Linked DNA regions of Homo sapiens. The protein of the gene in region 1 purifies or fractionates together with the protein of each later gene. This does not show direct contact. Each region holds a gene or a part of one and is shown in the gene's direction. Other genes may lie near its edges. The genes, in order: PAX5, HLTF, XRCC1, UBN2, UBN1, NFS1 and BEND3.

Region 1 (3,500 bases):
AAGTCTTTGGGAGAGAGAGTAGTCCCAGCGCCCCTGGCCTGCAGGACATGCTGGTAATGATAACACACCCCGACTAAGGTGATTTTACATGATTCTTGAAAAACCTGGTTAAATTCTCATTTTTTCTCCATCCTCTTCAAGAACTCCTGAAAACAGGGACAGGTCAAGTAGAGCAGACTCCTGATCCAGGGGCAGGAATCATGCAGGAATCTGCTGTGCCTCCACTTGCTGTATAATTTCAGGTCAATTTCTTTCCCTCTGATACTTAATTTTTTTTATTTTTTAAAAATGAAGTTTAGACAGAACTCAGTGGGTTGAGACAGCCATGCTGGCAGCATCCCTGATCTTTCCAGAACTGAGCAACCAGTCTGAGCCCTATTGGGCCTCACTTTGTCAGAAGCAAGAACAGGGAAATGGGCTGGACTTGGGTTGAGAGAGTCGATGTCAGGCTACTAGAACACTGTAGCAGCCCCCACATCCTGAAGCCACGGTAATGCAGTGCGCTGGGAGGCGTGGAAAGGGAAGCCGGGAGGGGGTGTGTCCCCAGTGAAACGAGGTCTCTGGCTTCTCACACATTATTCTCAATGGGCTGTCTTTCAGTACTAAAACTTTCAAAGGCAATTCGGTTCACATAAATTGAGTTTCTTCCTGGATAGTTTCCTTTCGCGGTCTCCTGCCCCCAGCGCCTAGCACAGGGCCCGGCCCAAAGCCCTGTTACTGGGAGAAAGAAAGCGCATCACTGTAGATCAGAGTGAGGCCCGACTGCGTTGAGAGCCGCGGTGAGAGCTGCTAGTCTCGCTCTCCTGGACCCAGGCTGCGGCTCGTGGGCGTTCAGAGACAGGACTGAGGCGCAGTAGCCCGGCTCCACCATGGACTTGCTGTGCAGCCTCGAGCTAGTCACGTAACCTCTCTGGGCTGTCGTTTGGTGACCTGTAAGGCTGGGCTAGGTGGTCACGGTATGAGGTCCGGTCGCGCCTTTTGGGGTTGGAACTTCCCAGAGGCCGCCCGCTCGGGCGGTGATGAATCACCCCTATCCAGAGGGAAACTCCTTCCCCCAAGAACGCCGAGAGTTGCGGGAAGGGGCTGCTCTGGGTGCACAGGTAAGACGGGTCCTGTGTGTGCCACGCAGCAGAACACTGTCCCGAAGCCGAACACCTACTGTGTGAAAGGGAGAATCGGCGCTACTCCTGCTCGGGCCGTGCCCCGGGGATTCTATGCAAGCCTCACGGGTATCCGAAGGAAAACCTGCGTGTGCGGGCATATTCCAGCCGAGTTCTTCGATTTGGCAGCATCGCCCCTCCCCCACCATCCCGAGAGCGGCTCTGGAGAGGCGCTTTTGAGAAAGGTTTCCAGCCCGCAGCCTTTCTTCTACCCCAGACTTGCTGTGTGACTTTGGACAAGTCGTATCCTGCCTCTGGGCCTCGGGTTCTGCACCCGTGAAATGGAGAAAGCATAGCTTCGAGGCCCTTTTAGCTCTAAGAATCTAGAGAACCTGGGTTTGTAGGCCTGAGCTCAGCAAGAGAGGCTGGGGGTGGGGGTGTCACTGGCTGCATCCCTCAGGGCGTCCCGCACTCCCGCCTCTCCAGTAGGTGTGCAAGCCGCCATGTTGAGTCTGGGCCGAGGATCTGAATTCTGGTTATTTCCGACCCACTGGGCGCCATCGGGTGAAGCCAGTGCAGGAAGTCTATTCCATCCCAGTCCCTCTCTGCTGTTGCGATCTTCCTGCTCCAAGGCCGGGGGTGAAAGGGGAAGATCCGGACAGGCGGGGTTCCAGACAAAGAAGAGATAACGCCGCCACTCCACCCCGGCGCGCACTGCAGCCTCCTGGGTCCCCAGAGTCCCGCCTGGGGCCGTTTTCCGCAGCTGTGCCCTGGTGGGGGGTGGGGACGGGTGTCAGCGCCGGAAACTTGTCTACTGGTCAGGGACAGCTGGGTGTGGAACAGGGACAGAAGGTGGGCCCAAGAGTCGACCCCAGTGTAGGAGTTTGAGAAGTAGAGCATGCGTAGAGAGAAGGCAGAGGAAGGGAAACCGAGGCAGAGAATAAAACAAGAGGATAACCCAGGAATCCTCTCATGATCAGCCTGTACTCTTCCTTACAAGCCCAGTCCTGGAGCAGGCATCTCAAAGCCCTTGTTTTGTGGATTTATGTTTAATATTAGCGGATCATCACTCATGAAATAGAAATTGAGTCTTCGGACCACTCCCATGAGTTGCTGGGGCAAGGGAATCCTCAGCGTCGTTCTTGAGCCAGGGCCCAGATGGCTCACAGAACTATAGCTTCTTGGGTGAAGAATGACTGTCACACGCTTCCTTTTCAAGGTCCAGTTTCTTTGATTGTTGTCTCAGAGCCTTAAAACCCACAAAGAAGCGGACTCGCTAGTCAAAGATCCCTTGTGTAGCAAGAGAGTTCTGCTACAAATCCATCCATTTTGTCTACATAGGGACAGGAACTTCCCCTGTAGAGGGAAGGTCAGTTTCCCATCAACTGGAAGCTGCCGCATTGCAGCGCGCCTGGCCGCTTTGCTTGACCCTTGCAGATAGAATGCGCCTGTCCACCCGCCCGCTTCAGGGACCCTTATTAGCCCTGGACGCGACTTGGCTCATTCGGTTCTCAAGAAGCCTTGAGCCGGGTGCGGAATTTCTCCGGTGGACAGAAGCGCAACACCAGCTCCCAAAGCCTCTGGCAGTTCCTGATCTGAGGCAGGAAAGAGGGCCAGCCACTCTGCTTGGGCAACCTGGCCCAAAGCCTTAGCCCCTCCACCCAGGTGCGCCCTGGTGCGCCCCAGTTACTAACTTTAAAGGAGTGTGAGATATTCTCCCCCTTCCCCCAACGTCTCTGCCTTTCGTTAATGCAGCAATGAGGGCCCTGCAGGTGGAGTGAGGGAGGAGGGTGGACGACGAGGAGCCAGTGGTGGTTTAGTAGGTACTTGATAAAATTAGGAAATAAAATTAGGAAATATTTCCGTGGAAGGAGCCTTCAGTAAAATCTAGTTAACCCCACTCTGCCCATTTTACAGAAGAGGAAAGTGAGGTCAGAACTGGCAGATATGCACACACTCCGATGCACACAATCCGATCCCATCACGAGCCTGATGGTACAGGATCCCTACTGCGCTCCTTGTCTTCCTCCAACATACATTTTTTGTTTTTTGGTTTTTTTGGAGACTTCCCCCATTCTCACCCTTCAATCGACTGCTCTCAAGCCTTGAGAGCGTCCCAGGATCCCAGCATCGCTGTGGGGAGGTCCAGCCCGCGTGGGACCCGCAGCGGGACTCTCCAGGCACTGCGTGGGCCCCTTTCCCCTCCCCACAGCCGCGATCCACTAGGCCTTAGTCCAGCGCGTTTGTCAATGAACGTGGCGCCGCCGCCTGGGCCCCGCCCCCCATTCTCTCCCATTGCCCAGGTGTCCGCTAATCAGGCGGAGCCTGTGGGCTGCTTAGCCAATGGGGCGGTGTTTCGGGCCAGGGCCGGCTGACGCCACTCTGATTGGCTTGGTGGAG
Region 2 (3,500 bases), on another chromosome or scaffold:
CACAGTACCTTTACTAGAAGGTAAGGAAAAGAATGTAAACTTAAACTAGTTGCTTTTTCCTTCTGCTAGTGCTGCTGCTTTAAAAACTAAATAAGCAGATGTACTTGATAAGGAGAAAGTTGAATTTTCCAGTCTTTTTCTTGGCTAGTGTGTCATGTGAGAGCTAAAAATTAGAGCAAAACTGTATCTTGAGATGTGTATATTTTTAATAAATGATTATAGTCAACACTTGATAGTTTAATTTAATTGATAATGATGAGCCTGGTACAGAGTGCCCATTTTCAATTGTTGTCTTCTCTGATTGGGCCAAATAGATACTCTTACTGGATACTCTGGTTAAAGAGTTATAACAGTTTCCTGTTATTTCTAGGTACTCCAATCCAGAATTCTTTAAAGGACTTGTGGTCTCTTCTTTCCTTTTTAAAACTTAAACCATTTATTGATAGAGAATGGTGGCATAGAACAATACAGCGTCCTGTCACAATGGGAGATGAAGGAGGACTTAGGTAAGTACTTTCAGACAGTGATTAATATTAGTTACAAATAACTGTTAGTAGCTTGAACCAGTTGGCACTTTCTTTACTATTTTAACTTGACTCTTAACTTTTCCTTCTAAAAAGTGTTTATGGCTCAGTACCTTTGTCTTTCAGAACCTAGTGATGCTTGTTTGGAAAGACAAAGATTTCTAATTGTCGATAACTACCCTTCCCCTGTTGTGGCTAAACTGAAAGGAAAGACATAACTGTTTTTTGTGTGTTGCTAAGCCCCAAAGCCCCAAAACCAGCATTAACAGATTTAGCAGGAAACATCGTATATCCTTTGAGGATCTAATATGCATTAAGTTTTCATATCTTATATAGCTTTATTTATTTATTTATGTATTTATTTATTTGAGATGGAGTCTTGCTCTGTCGTCCATGCTGGAGGGCAGTGGCGCGATCTTGGCTCACTGCAACCTCCGCCTCCTGGGTTCAAGCGATTCTCCTGTCTCAGCCTCCCAAGTAGCTGAGATTACAGGTCTGCGCCAGCATGCCCCGCTAATTTTTGTATTTTTAGTAGAGATGGGGTTTCGCCATGTTGGCCAGGCTAGTCTCAAACTTCTGACCTCAGGTTATCCTCTTGCCTCGACCTCCCAAAGTGCTGGGATTACAGGCATGAGCTACCACACCTGGCCTTACATAGCTTTATATAGTGAATGATGTGAGGTACCATGACCTTAGCAAAAGTTGTATAGGAAAGTTTTATGTGGTTGTTTCTGGTGGAGATAGATAAAAGTTGAGAACATAAATTAAAACTCAGTGATAGCCATTTTGCAAGATGTAATGTGGTTCAACTTTTTGGCTAAAGCACCGGTTTATAGACTGAAGATTTGAGAGCTATTAGTGGGATATAAAATCATTATAAAGGTGGTAGCCAGCATTTAAAAAGACAATGAAATAGAGAAGAGATTAGTAAATATCGGAGTGCATGATACATAGTAAGTATTATTTTGTGAAATATTTGTTTCTTTTGTATGTGTTTGTATATTTTTGCTGGATAGAATGTGTTTCTTACTGTGAGTTATAGTGAGAAAGCTTCAAGAGCCACTAACCTAGTTGGCAGTACTATCCACTTGATTCCTCAAAACCAACTATTTAAACTCCAGGAAATTGTATTTATATTTCAATGTTGGGAAAAAACAAGAATTGATACATCTCTTTTTTTCCAGTACTGAGAAAGAAATGTAAAGATTGTGGAACCTGTAAAGCATTTTTCTGTGTTCTGAATTACCATATTATCTTTTTATTTTGGGGGCACTCATTACTTTATACAATTACTTATTTATATACTTTTGATTTTAATATTACAGAATGTAGTATCTTACCCATATTTGTATTCTTACAACATTTAATTCAGTGCCTGGCACTTAATAGATACTTAGAATTTGAGTGTTGACTATTCGGTGATGGAGTTGACAGGACAGTTGAGAAGTAAAAGAGTTAGTGATTGGAACAAAAATGGGGAACAGAACTTACGAAAATAAGGACAGGATATAAAAAGATTAAACTATGTTAGGTATTGAGGGGAAATTTCCATACATTTGTTTTAATAATTTTATTTTTGTAGAATACTTCTGTGATTATCAGATTGGTTAAAATCCCAAATAAGGGATTTTAAAAACACTTTTACAGAAGCTATAAAACAGTAACAAATTAAAATGTTCTGTTTCGTTCTTCTTGGATCAATTTATGTAGAAATTAAAAGTTACATAATTATTTGTTTTATTCTGATTAGGCGTTTACAGTCCCTAATTAAAAATATTACACTTAGAAGAACAAAGACAAGCAAAATTAAAGGAAAACCTGTTTTGGAGTTACCAGAACGTAAAGTATTTATTCAGCACATTACACTTTCAGATGAAGAGAGAAAGATTTATCAGTCTGTGAAAAATGAAGGCAGAGCCACTATTGGAAGGTATGGAGAAAGAAAACCATGTTAAAAATTAGTTTTTGTTTACTTTGTTTCCCATTCACTGAATGACATTATTTAGATGTGTTAGCAATAGTTTGAAGTATACTGAAAGATAATTTGCTTCTATGAATTACAGTGTTTTTTACAAATCAATAAAGTGAATGAAATAATAGTATAATTCACCAGGTAAGTAATTTTTTAAGTTAGGAAATAATTTAAAGCTTACTTTAAATGACAAGTTCTCAATTGCTAGCCAGAAGATTTTGCTTGCTTCTATTTCCAAAATCGTATGGAAATCTGGAAATAGGAACTGATGAAATAGGTTTAACAAGAAGATTAAGGATTGGTAGAAGGTATGAAATTCTGGTCCAAGCAAGATCAGGTTTAATGTGAGCCCACAGGGAACAGAATGAATAAGAGACAAGTGAAAGCAGAATAGGACTGTGAAAGGGGAATCTTCAAAACATAAAAACTTCAGTGAGGTAGGTACAAAGCAGGTTTGATAGGAATTAGAGAGAGTGGGAAAGATTGTTCTAAGCAGCAGATTTCTGAGTTCAAAATCTTCTTTCTTTTCATATTCTTTCAACAAAAATTTATTAAGTGCCCACTGTGTGCCAGGCACTTATACCCATTGGGATACAGCAGAATAAAACAGACAAAAATGCCTGCACTCGAGGAATTTATATTTTAATGGGAAGAAACAGATAATTTAAAAACATGATTAAGTTTTAAGGAATAAAGCAACGAAAGGGGATGGGGAATGCCAAAGCTGTTTTAGTAGGGTATTAAGGAAGACCTCACTGAGAAGATGATATATAGGTAAAGATCTAAAGGAGATTGGGATTAAGGGGTGTTTCAGCCAGAAGGAAGAGCAAGTGTAGATGCTCCCAGTTGGGAACATGCCTGGTGAGCTTGAAGAATAACAGAGAAGCAAGTGTGGCTGGATAGTATGAACGAGAGAAAATAGTCATGATATCAGAGATTTATTGGAATGGGGGTATGTAACGCATATGTCAAGGACTTTGGCTTTTACTTTTTATGACAGGAAA
Region 3 (3,500 bases), on another chromosome or scaffold:
CAATGCCAGGAATCTGGAGGGGAGTCAGACTGGGGCCTGCCAGCGGAGAACACAGGTGGTCCCAGCCCAGAGCCAGCAGACTACTGAGAGGAGCGGGGCAGGGGCTGGGGTACTCCAGATGAGGGAAGGAGGACCTGCCTGGGAGGTCACAGAGGGCTCTGTGAAGCCTGCTTATCAGAAAAGGCTGGAGGAGCAGTTTGTGCAAAAACTCAGGGGTGGGAGAACAAGTGTTAGGGTCCATATTCATTCATTCAAAGTGAGTCCCGGTGCAGTGGCTCACGCCTGTAATCCCAGCACTCTGGGAGGCTGAGGCAGGTGGATCACTTGAGGTCAGAAGTTCGAGACCAGCCTGGCCAACATGGTGAAACCCCATCTCTACTAAAAACACAAAAATTAGCTGGGCTTGGTGGCGCACGCCTGTAATCCCAGTTACTCGGAAGGCTGAGGCAGGAGAATCGCTTGAACCTGGAAGCCAAAATCGTGCCACTGCACTCTGGCCTGGGTGACAGAGCGAGACTCCCATCTCAACAAGAAAAAAAAAACCCAAAAACCAAAATGAGTCCCAGAAGCCCCTGCTTGGTGCCAGGCTGGAATGTGCAAGGCTGAGGATCCAGTCATTGAGCCCTGCCCTTGAAGGCTTCTCACTTTGATGAGGGATCAGAATTGTTGTAACAGTGCAGTGGAAGCCCCACAGGGTGGCCCGCAGAGAGCGAGGGGTCTTCAAGGTCCAAGAGAGGTTTTTCAGGCTGAACAGAGGCAGAGAACATGCTGGGCAGAGGAGACAAGGTCAGGTCAGCCTGTTGTCTGCCTGGAGTTGTAGGTGAGGCTGAGCTTACACAGGGGCAAGAAGTGGCAGGAAAAATGGGACTGGGGCATTAGGAACCACAGAAGGCTTTGGACTGAGCAAAGGCTAGCTCATATCTGAGGTCCATGAATTGGAGGGGAGACTGGATTGTACTCCATGGCCTGAGTGTGTTCAGAAGTTAGTTGTACCTGGTGTATTTGAGAAATTATTTGCCTTGGGGGATAGCGAGGCTGTGAGGTGGGTGGGCTCAGGTCAGAAGGGGCTTCCGGAGCCCAGGCTACACACTGGGCTCCATGCAGCTTCACAGAACCCTCATCTGTTATTCAGGAATCCAAACATCTCTAGAAGCTGAAAGTTCTTTTCTAGGTTCAGCACAAACTCATTTCGCTGCAGTCATCCTGAACTAATGTGAGGCTATTTGCGGACTTTTTTTTTTTTATCCCCTTAAGTGTGTCATGGTCTTAACTGCAGAAATATTAGTGGGTTTGATCATGGGGTGCTCCCCCAGGCCCTCCTGGGAGTTTATGTAACAATCTGTATGCCAGCCATTTGCCTCTCTAAAACCTGAAAGATTCAAAATTCTGAAGCCCATCCAGCTCCAGAGGCCTCCTCTTGTGAGCAGAGGGGAGTCACAGAAGGTTTGATGGGGGCAGGGGCAGGCTCTGTTGGGAGGGATGAAGTGTCAAGGGGAGGCTGCAGGTGGGGACTCCTGAGTAGGCTGGGGCCTCAGGAACAGAAGAGGGGATGGGCTGGTGCTATATCTGGGGCAGAAGGAACCAGATTTGGGTTATTATCTGCCTGGGAGAGCTTAAGGAGGGCATGAAAGAAAGGGAAAAAGACAAACAGTGTTGGATTTGCAACTGGTCTTAACAAAAAGAATTCACAAAGCATTTTATATTTTTAAAAATTCTGGCTTGTACTCATTTATAAACTAAAAAAAAATAACTATATGATGCAGGCAACGTGGTGAGACCCCATCCCTACAAAACATGAAAAAAATTATCCAGGTGTGGTGGCACATACCTGTAGTCGTAGATACTTGGGAGGCTGAGGTGGTAGGATCACTTGAGCCCAGGAGGTTCAGGCTGCAATGAGCCATGATTGCACCGCTGCACTCCAGTCTAGGTGGCAAATCAAGACCTTATCTCAAAAATAAAAATTTGGCTGAGTGCAGTGGCTCACGCCTGTAATCCCAGCACTTTGGGAGGCCAAGGTGGGCAGATCACGTGACATCAGGAGTTTGAGACCAGCCTGGCCAACATGGTAAAACCCCATCTGTACCAAAAAATACAAAAATTAGCTGGGCATGGTGGCGCACACCTGTAGCCCCAGCTACTCTAGAGGCTGAGGCAGGAGAATCCCTTGAACCTGGGAGGAAGGGGTTGAAGTGAGTCGAGATCATGCCACTGCACTCCAGCCTGGGGACAGAGCGAGACTCTGTCTCAAAAAATAAAAATAAAATAAAAATTCAACTATAGAAGGAAGACCCCAAGAGGATGACTCTCCATACCTAATAAGCACAAATTTAGTTTTTTTTTTAATCTTTGAATAGAGCACTTTGAAGAAAAAGTTAAGTAAACCTGCTATTGACTGTTAATGAACTACTACATTTTAAATCCTCTGAATCTCCTGTAGGCACCGTTTTATGAGTGTGACTTACCTAAACAGCATTTCACCAGCTTGAAAACAACCAAATTAAATGCAGAAGGGTCTTAACATGTATGTCTCAGAAAAATGGAGCTAATACATTCATTTGTGTCTGCATACCTTCCCTGTGGCTTAGGGCAGATTAAATAATCTCTCTGTGCCTTAGTCTCCTCACCTGTAAAATGGGGCCAAAAATAGGACCTACCCCAGGATTCAGTGACTCAGTATTTGTCACGTGCTACCTGGCATGTAGGAAGTCCCATGTAAGTGTCAACCTGCTACTGTTGTGTTTTTTTTTTTTTTTTTTTTGATCATTCTTGGGTGTTTCTCACAGAGGGGGATTTGGCAGGGTCATAGGACAATAGTGAAGGGAAGGTCAGCAGATAAACAAGTGAACAAAGGTCTCTGGCTTTCCTAGGCAGAGGACCCTGCGGCCTTCCGCAGTGTTTGTGTCCCTGGGTACTTGAGATTAGGGAGTGGTGATGACTCTTAATGAGCATGCTGCCTTCAAGCATCTGTTTAACAAAGCACATCTTGCACCGCCCTTAATCCATTTAACCCTGAGTGGACACAACACATGTTTCAGAGAGCACAGGGTTGAGGGTAAGGTCATAGATTAACAGCATCCCAAGGCAGAAGAATTTTTCTTAGTACAGAACAAAATGAAGTCTCCCATGTCTACTTCTTTCTACACAGACACAGCAACAATCTGATTTCTCTATCTTTTCCCCACCTTTCCCCCTTTTCTATTCCACAAAACCGCCATCGTCATCATGGCCCGTTCTCAATGAGCTGTTGGGTACACCTCCCAGACGGGGTGGTGGCCAGGCAGAGGGGCTCCTCACTTCCCAGAAGGGGCGGCCGGGCAGAGGCGCCCCCCACCTCCCGGACGGGGCGGCGGCCGGGCGGAGGCGCCCCCCACCTCCCTCCTGGAGGGGCGGCTGGCCGGGCGGGGGCTGACCCCCCCACCTCCCTCCCGGATGGGGCGGCTGGCCCCCCACCTCCCCCCCGACGGGGCGGCTGGCCCCCCACCTCCCTCCCGGACGGG
Region 4 (2,250 bases), on another chromosome or scaffold:
CCTATTTTTGAGTCTTGGCTATGCCTTTGTAATTAGTTACATATACCTTCTGAGACCTTCAGATAATCAATGGGCCTTTCCCCATTAGAGGTAGGTTCCCAGCCTACAAGTATTTCCTGTGATCCATGGCAAGCCTCCAGAGAAAAGATTCAAGCTTTGCACTGCCCTTTTGTTGATTGTCATTGAAAACTTACTTTATTTCAGAAAGTATCAAAAATACCAAATTGGTCTTTCAGAGAGTATGTAAATCTGGGGCTTGCCCTTGGATTTCACTTGTTAAACACCCTCAAACTTAAAAGAAGAAAATAGATCTCCAGCTGGTGAAAATTTTGTGCCCCAAATAATATATTAATCCAAGTCTACCAAGGTAACTAAGTAATGGATGTTTTCTCTCTTTTATTACAAGCAAGAAAGTTCATTTGCAGTTGTAAAAATGATTACCGAACTCCAGACCTATTTGCTATAACTGATTGGAAATAATGATTCTGATTTTTAGTCTGGGTAAACACATACTTCGGTGTGAATTTTGATAAGGGAAAGACTTGTTTGGTAGCCCAAGGAAAAACAGGATGTATTTATACAGTGAATGTTCACTCTGCAGAGGAACTTCCCTCCAGTTACATCTTCCTCATACATTAGCCACCTCCACACTTGACATAGATGCCAACATGTTTCAAAACCAATCTTGAAGGAGCCTAAAGAGTTGATGGTCCTCTAGGTGAAAGACAAGAATTACTGTATTGCATTTGCTTATAGGGAGGTGTGTTTTTGCTAACTTGAAGGGATATACTGTATTTCAAATAAGTGTGTGACTTAATATTTTGGGATTTTTTTTTCCTCCTTTAAAAACTGGACCTGAACACAAGCTTTGAGTTGATGTTTGTAATAATCTCAGGACCTGAAAGATTGTAGCATTTAGTGTGTCTTAAAAATTATGTACTGTACCAGCCATGGATTTTTGTAAATATACCTGTCTCCCTTTTTTGTATTTTAGTAAAAAAAAAAAAAAATAAATTTAAATAAAAGGGGGTGGTGATGACATGTGAATGGGTGCGGGTATGTGTGCGTGTGTGTTTGTATAAGGCTCTTTTGAGATGAACTGGTGCTTGTTTAATTTCCAGCTCAAATCGGAGCAGGAATATGGACAAACTGCTGCTACTGAACCCTGCACTGAGCCGAGGTATTTCCATTTGGTTAACTAAACGCTAGCTACCAGGAAATGACGCAGAAGTCACGTTCTTCTTCCCACTGCCATCTTGCCTTTGCATTCTCAGTTCTACGTGCCCTTTGAACTTTAATGGTAAAACATTTCACACTTTGGATGGTTTGCTTGTCTCTAGTTTTTAGAAAGCTCTTATCACTCCTTCCTAAGAAAAAAGAAGGGCAGGTAAATTTTTTTAACCAAAAAAAAATCACACATTTCATAAAACCCTGATGAATTTTGGATATGTGAGAGGGCATAAACATTCCTAAATATGGACCTGTGAATTTAGTAAATTACCCCCATGAATATACTCCTTCAGTGCAGGGATTTTTGTGTTTTTTTTTTTTTTTTAATTTTTTTGCAACAGCCTTGCTCATATTCCAGGTGTAGCTAGCAAACCCCTGTTTTTGAAGCAAGAGCCTTATTTGATTCAGTGTAGATGTTTCCTGTCTATCCTTTGTGACAGGGCCTTTTAATGAGTGTTTTTTCTTTTTGTATATGTTACGTGTTTGTTGTTGTATTAAATAAAGAGGAATGTACATACTATCCTCGTGTCTGTTGTGTTATTGAGTTACCTTGGGTTCTAACATCACACTCTCAGCTGTTGGGGAGTATCTGCTGTCCATATCACACTGTGCTAGGTTTATAGGGTACAAGAAGTAAAGGACCCAGTCTCCTGCCTCCCAGTATACTCACAATTTGCAGTCACATGATAAGTTAAAAGATAATGGTTCAAAATCTGTCACAAAGCTACATTTTGGTCCATTTGTGTTCCATTGCTACCTGACATTTGAGTTCACAGTGGGGAAGAAACGGGACTGGAGTAATGTGGGAAGACTCAGTGCAGTGGATGGCACTTGAGGTGGGCCTCCAAGAACTGGTGGAATTTGGCCAAATCAGGAAGGTGGAGCATTTGCTGTGAGGGGCATGTTTGGACAAGTAGAGGAAGGCAGAGCGTGGGAGTCCTTGATTGTGACTCACTCTAGGTTTTTTGGGTAATAGGGTATGTGTGTATTTGATGGTGCTACTACGGTCAGGACTTGAAA
Region 5 (3,500 bases), on another chromosome or scaffold:
TTAACTTTGGTAGCACCGAGAGAAGTGCAAATTCAGACCTTTCTAAACAGTATGGCAGAACGGCTCTCAAGAACTTGCACCACATTCAGTGGGATTTTCACGTTTTTGAGCCCTTGACTATTTTGGAAGTCAATGGACTCTTTCTTAGAATGTTTTTAAATGCCTGAAGAAAATTTTAAGAGTTACAAAGGAAGTCCACTTTATTGAACGTGGTTGTGTAGCGACTGGGCATCTCCTTCTAAAGGCCCTTTGCTGTCTTTGAGTCCTGCAGCCCCTCATGCTGTGGTGGATGATTGTAGGCATTCAATCAAGTTTTATTAACCTACATTAAGGGAAATTTTACTTTCTTAATTAAGATAAACATTGATGAGATGGTAGCATGTTTTCTACCTTGCCCTTTTCTGGAAAACATTGTTTTTATAGAGGTATTGAGTAATCAGTGAAGTTTCTATGAATAAGAACATGGGAATATTTTCTGACTTATTTTTTGTGGAACGATCTCTTTACAGAAGAAAGATCTGTCAGATCCTTTCAATGACGAAGAAAAGGAAAGGCATAAAGTAGAGGCCCTTGCCCGAAAATTTGAAGAAAAATACGTAAGATTTCTCTCTTGAATAACAAAACAACCTCATTGGGTGGGAGACGTTTCCACACTGTATTCCTTTAGTGGATCATCATGTAATAAACACTGATCTGGAAGTAAGCCTTAAGCATGGAGAGAAGAGAAGCAGTTATTAAACCTAACGCATTAAGGTACAGAAAAGGGGCATGGCAGAGCTAGTGTGAAGAGCTAACTGGACAAATAACCGAGAAGGGCCTGTGGTCGCCTTAGAAGAAATATTTTGGTACAAAGCATAAGAAGCCATTTAGTTCATTTTTCTGTCCTAGGACATTTTATACAGGTACAAATATGTTCTATGTTAAAAGGTTTTCAGGAAAGGAGGTTTTGGGGTTTGTGTGTATGTGAGAGAGTGACTGTTTTAGTTAGTGCATTACCTCTTTGAGTCATAGCTGATGAAGTTCAAGGCCACAGTTAATTCTGTGTGTTTATTCAAAAAGCATGTAATCTATTGCTTTCACATTTTAGGGTGGAAAGAAACGTAGAAAAGACCGAATACAGGACTTGATCGATATGGGGTATGGTTATGATGAATCCGACTCCTTCATCGATAACTCTGAGGCGGTAAGTAGTTACTGAAAATGCCGTGTCAGACCCACTGTACCTGTAGCTCCTCCTGATACTGACCAGGAAGCTGGGGGTGGGGTCAGAGCAGTCGTGCCCTCTTCCCAGCATGAGGCAGTAGCAGCACTGATGAGAGACGAAATGACATTCTTTATCCGGGTCTTAGTTCCCTCTTCAGAAAGTGATGACCAGATCTGTCCAAAACACCTTGTAGCTCAGACATTCATGTTTGACCAGAGGATGTTTTAGCATGCTCTTGGAAGTGGCAGAGGAGCACAGTCACATCTCTCTCGAGACCCACTTTGCACCTTCGGACTGCAGAAGCAGAACTTGGAGCTGACAGTTTGTTTCCCATCTTCAGTATGATGAGCTTGTTCCTGCTTCTTTGACTACGAAGTATGGAGGATTTTACATTAACTCGGGAACCCTGCAGTTTAGACAAGCATCAGAGTCTGAAGATGACTTCATTAAAGAAAAGAAGAAAAAATCTCCAAAGGTTAGAATGTGCTTGCTTTTGGATTTCAGAAATGCTTTTTGACGTGACCCTATCAGATCAGTAGGTGACTTGCCAGAATACGTGGCGCTTGGCCGGCTCAGGAGGATGGTGGAAAGGCAGAGCCGTGCCAGGTTGATGGCTCGCCTCTTACACGTGTGCCCTAATGAGGACACGTGCCCGTGGGGGCTCTGTTCAGCACTTGGTCATTATGTCCATGTCACATGACATCCCAGCAGGCTCAGCAGGGGTCGTTTCTGGAGGTGGCCTCAGGGTGGGAAGGCTGTGGAATGAGGGAATGTGTACCACTCTTGCTGACCCTCTTCTGTGGACATGTAGAGGACTTCAGTTTCAGGGCTGCCATCCCACTGAAAACCAGTCAGCCTTAGGATCAGTGTGTTTAAAAACCTGTCTACCACTGCCTATGTGTTTAAGATGAGAGGTAGGGCCCACTTGTAACTTTCAAACTACAAAGGTTTCAGGCTCCAGAATGGTCACTGTTGTCTCAGCCCTGGGTGTTTCCAGGAGACACCGTCGGTGGGAATGCTGTGGGTTTGTGGTCCAGGGACTGATCTGAGAGCTTTTGTTCATGAAGGAAATGAGACAGGTCTCAGGATGTGCCCCGGGCGGAGCAAGGCCAGTGCCGTGTAGTGCACTTGCTCCCTGAGTTAGGGAGCCGTGTAACTGTGCCTTGTCTTTAATTCTCAGAAGCGGAAGTTGAAGGAAGGTGGTGAGAAGATAAAGAAGAAGAAAAAAGATGACACTTATGACAAGGAGAAGAAATCGAAAAAGTCCAAGTTTTCCAAAGCCGGGTGAGAGGCAGCAGCTTCTTTGCTAGGATAAAGCCTGAACTGTTAGGGCAGGACGACTGGGAGCTGACTCACCTCCTCCCCACAGCTTCGGAAGAGGCAGCAGGGCCTGGCCTTCCTGTCCTCCCGCACGCCTCCCGCAGTGCCATTCTGGGCATAGACGCTCACCTCTCAGTGTGTCAGATAGTTCCACTGTCAGTGTTGGCAGCTATTGTTGTCACTGTGTGACTGCTGATGTTTCTCGTCCTCTGGGGTGCTCCTCTCTGCCCCAGTTCTCCTTCTGTCTCCGCTGTTTTCCCTTGTTGTCTATGGTCATGCTTCCTTCTCCTCACTTGGTCTCACCCCAGCTTCTCTTCAAGTTGCTGCTGTTCTCTGCTGCTCCTGCTTTCTCCCTCTAAATACTTTTCTTGCTCTCCCTGCCCCTTTTTGCAACCTTTTATTTCAGCCTGGCAGTGGTTTCTAAAAACCCGTCGGAAATTTAGCATATGTGACACTGTGTTGCTAACCTGTATTAACTCTCAAGCTTTGGTCTCAGCAAGAACGAGCTCCATATGCCAAGAGGAGGGAGGAGGAATGACAGGGTGGACTGTGACAGGTTCTCCTGGAGACCATGACCCTGGGAGCAGGGGTGAAGGCCTCTGGAGTTCCCTTTGGAGGTGTCCTATAGTCTGAGTGACCAGTTTCCCTCTTGCTTGCAGCTTCACAGCCCTCAATGCCAGTAAGGAGAAGAAGAAGAAGAAATATTCTGGGGCTTTAAGCGTTAAAGAGATGCTAAAGAAATTTCAGAAAGAGAAAGAGGCTCAGAAAAAAAGGGAGGAGGAGCATAAGCCTGTTGCGGTCCCATCAGCGGAAGCTCAGGGCCTGCGGGAACTGGAGGGTGCCTCTGACCCCTTGCTCTCACTCTTTGGCTCTACTTCTGACAACGACTTGCTCCAGGCGGCCACTGCCATGGACTCGCTGACGGATTTGGACTTGGAGCATCTGCTCAGTGAGTCTCCAGAAGGAAGTCCCTTCC
Region 6 (3,500 bases), on another chromosome or scaffold:
TATGTGGGCTTTCCTGACCTAGGAGATAGTGTCCCTCCATCATTTGGACTCGTATATGTATTTCGCAGCCATCCATCCCCACCCCATTGTGAAGAGAAGGCTTGCAGTCTTTCTGATTTGTTGCTTCCTTTAACCCTTTGCAGTCTACTCTTTCTTAAGTCTTTGCTGCTGTTGGTCTGAGTTGAGTGAGGCAGTTGGATAGCAAAGGAGGTGGCCCTCAGGCCATTAACCACTTGTTTTTTTTTTGTCTGGCAGTTACTTCAGAGAGTGGATAATGGTGATTGAACCTTTTCTCCATTCTTCTTTTTTTTTTTGATACATAGTCTCACTCTGTCGCCAGGCTGGAGTGCAGTGGCGCAATCTCAGCTCACTGCAAACTCCACCTCCCAGGTTCAAGTGATTCTCCTGCCTCAGCCTCCAGAGTAGCTGGGAGTACAGGTGCCCGCCACCATGCCCAACTAATTTTTATATTTTTAGTAGAGATGGGGTTTCACCATATTGGCCAGGATGATCTCAATCTCTTGACCTGATGATCCTCCCATCTCGACCTCCCAAAGTGCTGGGATTACAGGTGTGAGCCACCGTACCCGGCCTTTCTCCATTCTTTTTATCTAGTAACAACAAGTTATATATGTGATTTCAGGGCTGTCCTCCTCTCAGCCTTCCTTTTTCTTTCTGATCAGATCTATTTGCAACAAGTTCCTCCTGTTTCTTTAGATATCTCCATTTTGAAGTGCTTGTCTTTGTGGTGCCCTCTGCAGGCATTCACATGGTCACCCATTCTGGGATCAGTCATTTTGTCCTGGGTACATAGAAGATCTTTGGTGCTAATGCAAGGAAAAGGTACTTTTAGTAGTCACGTTGGTGTTTCATAGAACATAGTCAGATTTCACTGGGCCTGGTTGCCAGGATTATGTGAGTAAATGCCAAGGCTCTGAGAAATTGTGGCTTGCTGTACTTTGAACTCTGGCTCCACTTGCTCTCATCTTTGTCTTTGAACTGTGCTGCCAGTGTTGGTTTCTTTGACCTTGGCCTGAATATAGGAGGCCTAGGACGGGCTTCAGGGTCATCAGCACTCTGCCTGATCATGTTAACAGGAAGGCATCCTTCCTTGGGACTGCAGAGACCAGAGAGTCGGGGTGAAGGTTCCTCCAAAGGTGGAGATGGTTTCTGAAATGGAGAGCATTTTCAAAACTTCGAAAATATTTTCTTTGGAAGTCTCCACAGATTCCAAACCAACAGGTCAAGGATCGCTAAGAGTACCTGTGATGATGTTTCTTTTAATCTCCATGATTGGTAGAGTAAAATAATCTATAAATTGTTAAAGAAATCTACATCATGGGTAACTGAGATAAAATAAGGTGGGTGGGTGGTGAAATGTCATTTAAATGAAATTTTTATAAACAACTGTAACATTTTGAACTATCATCACCATCCCACAACCATTTTTTCTTTTTTTTTTTTTAGACTGAGTCTCACTCTGTCATCCAGGCTGGAGTGCAGTGGCACGATCTTGACTCACTGCAAGCTCCGCCTCCTGGGTTCACGCCATTCTCCTGCCTCAGCCTCCTGAGTAGCTGGGACTACAGGCGCCCTCCACCACACCCGGCTAATTTTTTGTATTTTTAGTAGAGACAGGGTTTCACTGTGTTAGCCAGAATGGTCTCGATCTCCTGACCTCGTGATCCGCCCTCCTCGGCCTCCCAAAGTGCCCCACAACCATTTTTACTTACTGATGTAAATACTTTTTAGGATAAAATAGAGTATAAATCAATTATAAATGTTTCTCATTTATGTTCTTTGTCCTCATGAACAGACCATTTTTACATAGTTATAATTTTGTCCTATATGGTTTAATATTCTGCTTTTATTTTATTTATGTGTTTATTTTTTATAAGACAGGGTCTCAGCCGGGCCCAGTGGCTTACACCTGTAATCCCAGCACTTTGGGAGGCTGAGACCGGCAGATCATCTGAGATCAGGAGTTCGAGACCAGCCTGACCAACATGGTAAAACCCCGTCTCTACTAAAAATGCAAAAACTACCTGGGTGTGGTGGCACACCCCTGTAGTCCTAGCTACTTGGAAGGCTGAGGCAGGAGAATCAGTTGAACCCAGGAGGCAGAGGTTGCAGTTGCAGTGGGCCGAGATTGCGCCATTGCACTGTAGCAACAAGGGCGAAACTCTGTCTCAAAAAAAAAAAAAAAAAAGACATGGTCTCATTCTGTCACCTAGGCTGGGGTGCAGTTGCACAATCACAGCTCACTGGAGCCTTGAACTCCTGGACTCAAGCAATCCTCTCATCTTAGCCTCCCAAGTAGCTAGGCTTACAGGCGTGTACTAGCACGCCTGTCTAATTTTGTTATTTTAATTTATTTATTTATTTTTTTTTGAGATGGAGCCTGGCTCTGTCGCCCAGGCTGGAGTGCAGTGGCGTGATCTCAGCTCACTGCAAGCTCTGCCTCCTGGGTTCACGCCATTCTCCTGCCTCAGCCTCCTGAGTAGGTAGGACTACAGGCTCCCACCACCACGCCTGGCTAATTTTTCTATTTTTAGTAGAGATGGGGTTTCACCATGTTAGCCAAGATGGTCTCGATCTCCTGACCTTGTGATCCGCCTGCCTTGGCCAACCGAAGTGCTGGTTTTACAGGTGTGAACCACCGCGCCCGGCCTGTTATTTTAATTTTTGTAGAGATGCGGCTCTCATTATGTTGCCCAGGCTGGTCTTGAACTCCTGGGCTCATGTGATCCTCCTGCCTTTGCCTCCCAAAGTTCTGGGATTACTGGCTTGAGCCACTGCACCTGGCTTTTTATTCTGCTGTTAAAGGTAATAGTCTTTTATAAGCTCTGGGGAGAGATGCACATTTTCTTTCCAAGTTTTTAATTTTTGAAAAATAATTCTGTCACATATGGTGTGTTTTTTTAAAACCAATGGAAAGATTTAAAATGAAGTGTAGGCCGGGTGCAGTGGGTCAAGCCTGTGATCTTAGCACATTGGGAGGCCGAGGCAGGCAGGTTGTCTGAGCTCAGGAGTTCGAGACCATCCTGGGCAAAATGGTGAAACACCATCTCTACTAAAAAATACAAAAAATTAGCTGGGTGTGGTGGCTGTAGTCCCAGCTACTCGGGAGGCTGAGACAAGAGAATTGCTTGAACTCGGGAGGCAGAGGTTGCAGTGGGCCGAGACCACACCACTGCACTCCAGCCTGGGTGACAGAATGAGACCGTCTCAAAAAATAAATAAACAAAAATAAAATAAAATGAAGTGTAAATCTTCCTCTCCTTCCCCAAGGACCCCAGTCCCTGATCCTGTTCTGCAAAGTTGATACTGTTAATTCTTTTTTTTTTTCCCAAGGGGGAGTCTTGCTGTGTCACCCAGGCTGGAGTGCAGTGCCGTAATCTTGGCTTACTACAACTTCTGCCTCCAGGGTTCAAGCGATTCTCCTGCCTCATCTTCCTGAGTAGCTGGGATTACAGGAGCCTGCTACCACACCCAGCTAA
Region 7 (3,500 bases), on another chromosome or scaffold:
GGAAGGTGAGGCTTACAAGGTCACAAACAGAATGCTTGCTGATTGAGCTGAGTTCTTAGCCACACCTTCATGCCAGTGCTCTTATCAGAACAGCTCCTTTTCTTTTTTTTCTCCTTTTCTTTTTCTTTCTGAGACAGGGTCTTGCTCTGTTGCCCAGGCTGGAGTGCAGTGGTGTGATCTCAGCTTACGAAGCCTCAATCTCCCAGGCTGAAGCAATCCTCCTACCTCAGCCTCCCGAGTAGCTGAGACTACAGGCACACACCACCACTCCCAGCTTATTTTTGTAGAGGTGGGGTTTCACCATGTTGCCCAGGCTGGTCTTGAACTCCTGGGCTTGAGATCCCCTGCCTCAGCCTCCCAAAATACTGGGATTACAGGTGTGAGCCACTGCACCTGGCCTCACTTTTCTTAAGCATGTATTTGAGAATGGTGGAACACTTTGCCCTGCTTTATTCACGTGTGGTTGACAGAAATTCATTGACCTCTTCTGTACCCTGGGCACTTTGCTAGGCACTGGGGATAGACTCAGGAACAACGTGGTCCCATCGCACAACCATCATGCAGTTTGACAGGATGGGGACAGCTTGGCAAGGAGACCCCAGAGGGAGTGGGGCAGGTGGCTGGCCACCCCTGACAGGCTGCCTCCACTCTGGTATGTCCTTGGTCCTCTGCTCCTGTGAGTGCTGTAGAGGGGAGGGGTGGGGAGTGGGGTCCACAAGGGCCAGTTGCCACTGACCATTTGCTCACATACATATATATATATATATATATATATATATATATATATATATATATATATATATATATATATATACATACACATACAAACCCTGAAGGAAGTATTGGCCAGCTCTGTGATAACTAATGCACTTACGAGTCCCTTTATAAGGTCACTAAGGGAGTAGTTTTTCTTTTGCATGGTTGTCCTCATGGGGGCACAAGAGAAGAATTAACATTTCTCTAATATGAGTCAGATTATTCTATTATCCAAAAGAGAGAGTCTAGGAAGTAATTTATTAATTATTATTGAGATGGGGTCTCACTCTGTCACCCAGGCTGGGGTGCAGTGGCAAGATCTTAGCTCACTGCAGCCTCCATCTCCCAGGCTCAAGTTATCCTCCTACTTCAGCCTCCTGAGTAGCTGGGACTACAGGTGCACACTACTGTGCCAGGCTAATTTTTTTTGTATTTTTTTAGTAGAGACAGTGTTTCGCCATGTTCCCCAGGCTGGCGGAACTTCTGAGCTCAGGAGATCCACCCATCTTGGCCTCCCAAAGTGCTGGGATTACAGGCGTGAGCCACCACGCCCAGCCGTTCATTAATTTAAATGAAAAAGAACACATGGAAGGTTCAGAATGATGAAAGTTTTCTGTTTATTTGGGCTCTTGGTTTCTATTCCCCCTGGATCTGCCTATTCTCAGCCTCATATAGCTCACTTGCTGTACGAAGCCTCGCTTCTGAGGTTGTCTCTTTTCCCTACGTTGGCTGAGGCTGCAGAGAAAAACACCTCATGCACTGTTTTGTGCTGGCATTAGTTACCTGAAAACTTTCAAATAACCCTGATCTGCCTGGATGAGATAAACTGAGAGCAAACACTGACTGCCAAGCCCTGGCTACTCAGAGAGGATAGACAGCAGCCACAGCACCCAGGAGCTTATTAGAGATGCAGGCCCAGGGTTCACACTCTGCATTCCAGCAAGACCCCAGGTGATTCAGTGTGTACACTAGAGCTTAAGAAGCGCTGGGCTAGGCCAGTCCCAGCCACCTGTACTCTTCCCAAGTGTGGAGAGAAGCACCCCAGGATGCCGTTTGTTCTTGTCCATTCCCAGTTGCCCGAGGCACATGCCTGTCAGTGGGAGCAAAGGCTCCCTGCTCCCCCGACACCCACCAGCGCTCACTGACTAGCTCATCTGCTTTCCTAAAACTCAAATATACATTTACATAAGTATCTGGGTCGAATTCAACATTTGTCAAAAACAGGCTTATTAGGTTATGGCTGAAACTCAAAGAAGGATACATATTTAAGGTATACAATTTGATACGTTTTGACACGTGTCTACCAGTGAACCCACAGCCACAGTCATGATGATAAACATCTGTCACCCACTGACGTTCTCCATTTCATTCTCTGTGTCCCATCGAATTCTCCCTGCCATCCCTAGGCAATGACTATCTGCATTCTGTCACTATAGGCAAGCTTGCGTTTTCTAGAATTGTACATACACAAATGGAATCATACACTACGACCTCTTTTTTGTTATTTATTTTGAGATTTATCATGAGTACTTTGTGTACTGTATCAATAATATCTTATTGCTGAGTAATATTCCATTGTATGAATATAACATAGTTTATATACTTGTGGATTTTTCAGAAACGGGGGGTTGTTTCTACTGTCTCACAGTTGCACAGGCCAGAAAGTTCTGGGCCGGCTTTTTCTGGTCTAAGATGTGATTTCAGGCAGTGGTGGAGTTGGCATCAGACAGCCGCTCTCCACAGCCCAGTTCTCAGGTGCCCCGACCATGCATCCCAGATGAGCCTTCCCGAAAAGGGACGCCTGCTCTCCCAAAGGCTGCAGGCTAAAAGGACACACTGCTGCCTTTGGGAGCTACCATAGGTAGGAATCTCTGTCCCTTCCTGAGAGCAGACGAAGGCACGGGTCCATGGGGTGACCTGCCCGTGGCCGGCAGCTGCACAAGCCCGTTGCCTTCCTATGCTCTTCCTCCTGTTTCTTGCAGAGTTCTTGCCCAGTATTGCCAGCATCAGTGTCAGCCCTCTGACGGAAAGGAAGTCCACTGCTGGTGCCCTGTGAGAGCGCAAAGCCTCCCTGGGCCCAGCCTGAGTCTTTTCTCAGGGAATGGGGAGAGCAGCAGGTTTGGGGTGGTGGGGATGCAGGTTTGTATCAGTGGTGCATCCTTGGATGACAGAGTGATTCAGGGTGAGGAATCAGTTTCTTACATGCTCCCAAGGTTGACCTCGGCCTCTGTGTGCTACACAGACCCTTGTTTAGTGTCATAAACCACAGCACCCACCTAACACTCTGGGAAATGATTTTTGTTTTGCAGGCTCTCCTAGCAGGCATGCGGAACCGTGAGAACAGCTCGCCCTGCCAAGGCAATGGTGAGCAGGCCGGCAGGGGCAGGAGCCTGGGCAATGTGTGGCCTGGAGAGGAGGAGCCCTGCAACGATGCCACCACCCCTTCCTACAAGAAGCCTCTGTATGGCATCTCGCACAAGATCATGGAGAAGAAGAATCCTCCCTCGGGGGACCTGCTAAACGTGTACGAGCTCTTTGAGAAGGCAAACGCCAGCAACAGCCCCTCGTCACTGCGGCTCCTGAATGAGCCACAGAAGCGGGACTGTGGCAGCACCGGGGCAGGCACTGACAACGACCCCAACATCTACTTCCTGATCCAGAAGATGTTCTACATGCTGAACACCCTCACGTCCAACATGTCCCAGCTGCACAGCAAGGTGGACCTGCTCTCCCTTGAGGTGAGC

What was found.
Region 2: the proteins of PAX5 (region 1) and HLTF purify together in Homo sapiens (affinity purification with mass spectrometry, with the first as the bait; one large-scale study listed by BioGRID). This does not show direct contact.
Region 3: the proteins of PAX5 (region 1) and XRCC1 purify together in Homo sapiens (affinity purification with mass spectrometry, with the first as the bait; one large-scale study listed by BioGRID). This does not show direct contact.
Region 4: the proteins of PAX5 (region 1) and UBN2 purify together in Homo sapiens (affinity purification with mass spectrometry, with the first as the bait; one large-scale study listed by BioGRID). This does not show direct contact.
Region 5: the proteins of PAX5 (region 1) and UBN1 purify together in Homo sapiens (affinity purification with mass spectrometry, with the first as the bait; one large-scale study listed by BioGRID). This does not show direct contact.
Region 6: the proteins of PAX5 (region 1) and NFS1 purify together in Homo sapiens (affinity purification with mass spectrometry, with the first as the bait; one large-scale study listed by BioGRID). This does not show direct contact.
Region 7: the proteins of PAX5 (region 1) and BEND3 purify together in Homo sapiens (affinity purification with mass spectrometry, with the first as the bait; one large-scale study listed by BioGRID). This does not show direct contact.

Annotation. Positions count from the first base shown.
Region 1 is NC_000009.12:37,027,769-37,031,268, reverse strand, and holds part of PAX5 (paired box protein Pax-5), read left to right. Parts: exon of another isoform or gene 1-2,349; intron 2,350-3,181; exon of another isoform or gene 3,182-3,324; intron 3,325-3,500. UniProt on the Homo sapiens protein: Transcription factor that plays an essential role in commitment of lymphoid progenitors to the B-lymphocyte lineage. Fulfills a dual role by repressing B-lineage inappropriate genes and simultaneously activating B-lineage-specific genes.
Region 2 is NC_000003.12:149,045,034-149,048,533, reverse strand, and holds part of HLTF (helicase-like transcription factor), read left to right. Parts: intron 1-370; coding exon 371-506; intron 507-2,274; coding exon 2,275-2,454; intron 2,455-3,500. UniProt on the Homo sapiens protein: Has both helicase and E3 ubiquitin ligase activities. Possesses intrinsic ATP-dependent nucleosome-remodeling activity; This activity may be required for transcriptional activation or repression of specific target promoters.
Region 3 is NC_000019.10:43,548,028-43,551,527, reverse strand, and holds part of XRCC1 (DNA repair protein XRCC1), read left to right. Parts: intron 1-3,500. UniProt on the Homo sapiens protein: Scaffold protein involved in DNA single-strand break repair by mediating the assembly of DNA break repair protein complexes. Negatively regulates ADP-ribosyltransferase activity of PARP1 during base-excision repair in order to prevent excessive PARP1 activity.
Region 4 is NC_000007.14:139,306,487-139,308,736, forward strand, and holds the end of UBN2 (ubinuclein-2), read left to right. Parts: 3' UTR 1-1,750; downstream 1,751-2,250.
Region 5 is NC_000016.10:4,857,481-4,860,980, forward strand, and holds part of UBN1 (ubinuclein-1), read left to right. Parts: intron 1-509; coding exon 510-596; intron 597-1,087; coding exon 1,088-1,183; intron 1,184-1,544; coding exon 1,545-1,679; intron 1,680-2,384; coding exon 2,385-2,488; intron 2,489-3,183; coding exon 3,184-3,500. UniProt on the Homo sapiens protein: Acts as a novel regulator of senescence. Involved in the formation of senescence-associated heterochromatin foci (SAHF), which represses expression of proliferation-promoting genes. Binds to proliferation-promoting genes.
Region 6 is NC_000020.11:35,692,853-35,696,352, reverse strand, and holds part of NFS1 (cysteine desulfurase isoform a precursor), read left to right. Parts: intron 1-3,500.
Region 7 is NC_000006.12:107,070,516-107,074,015, reverse strand, and holds part of BEND3 (BEN domain-containing protein 3), read left to right. Parts: intron 1-3,065; coding exon 3,066-3,500. UniProt on the Homo sapiens protein: Transcriptional repressor which associates with the NoRC (nucleolar remodeling complex) complex and plays a key role in repressing rDNA transcription.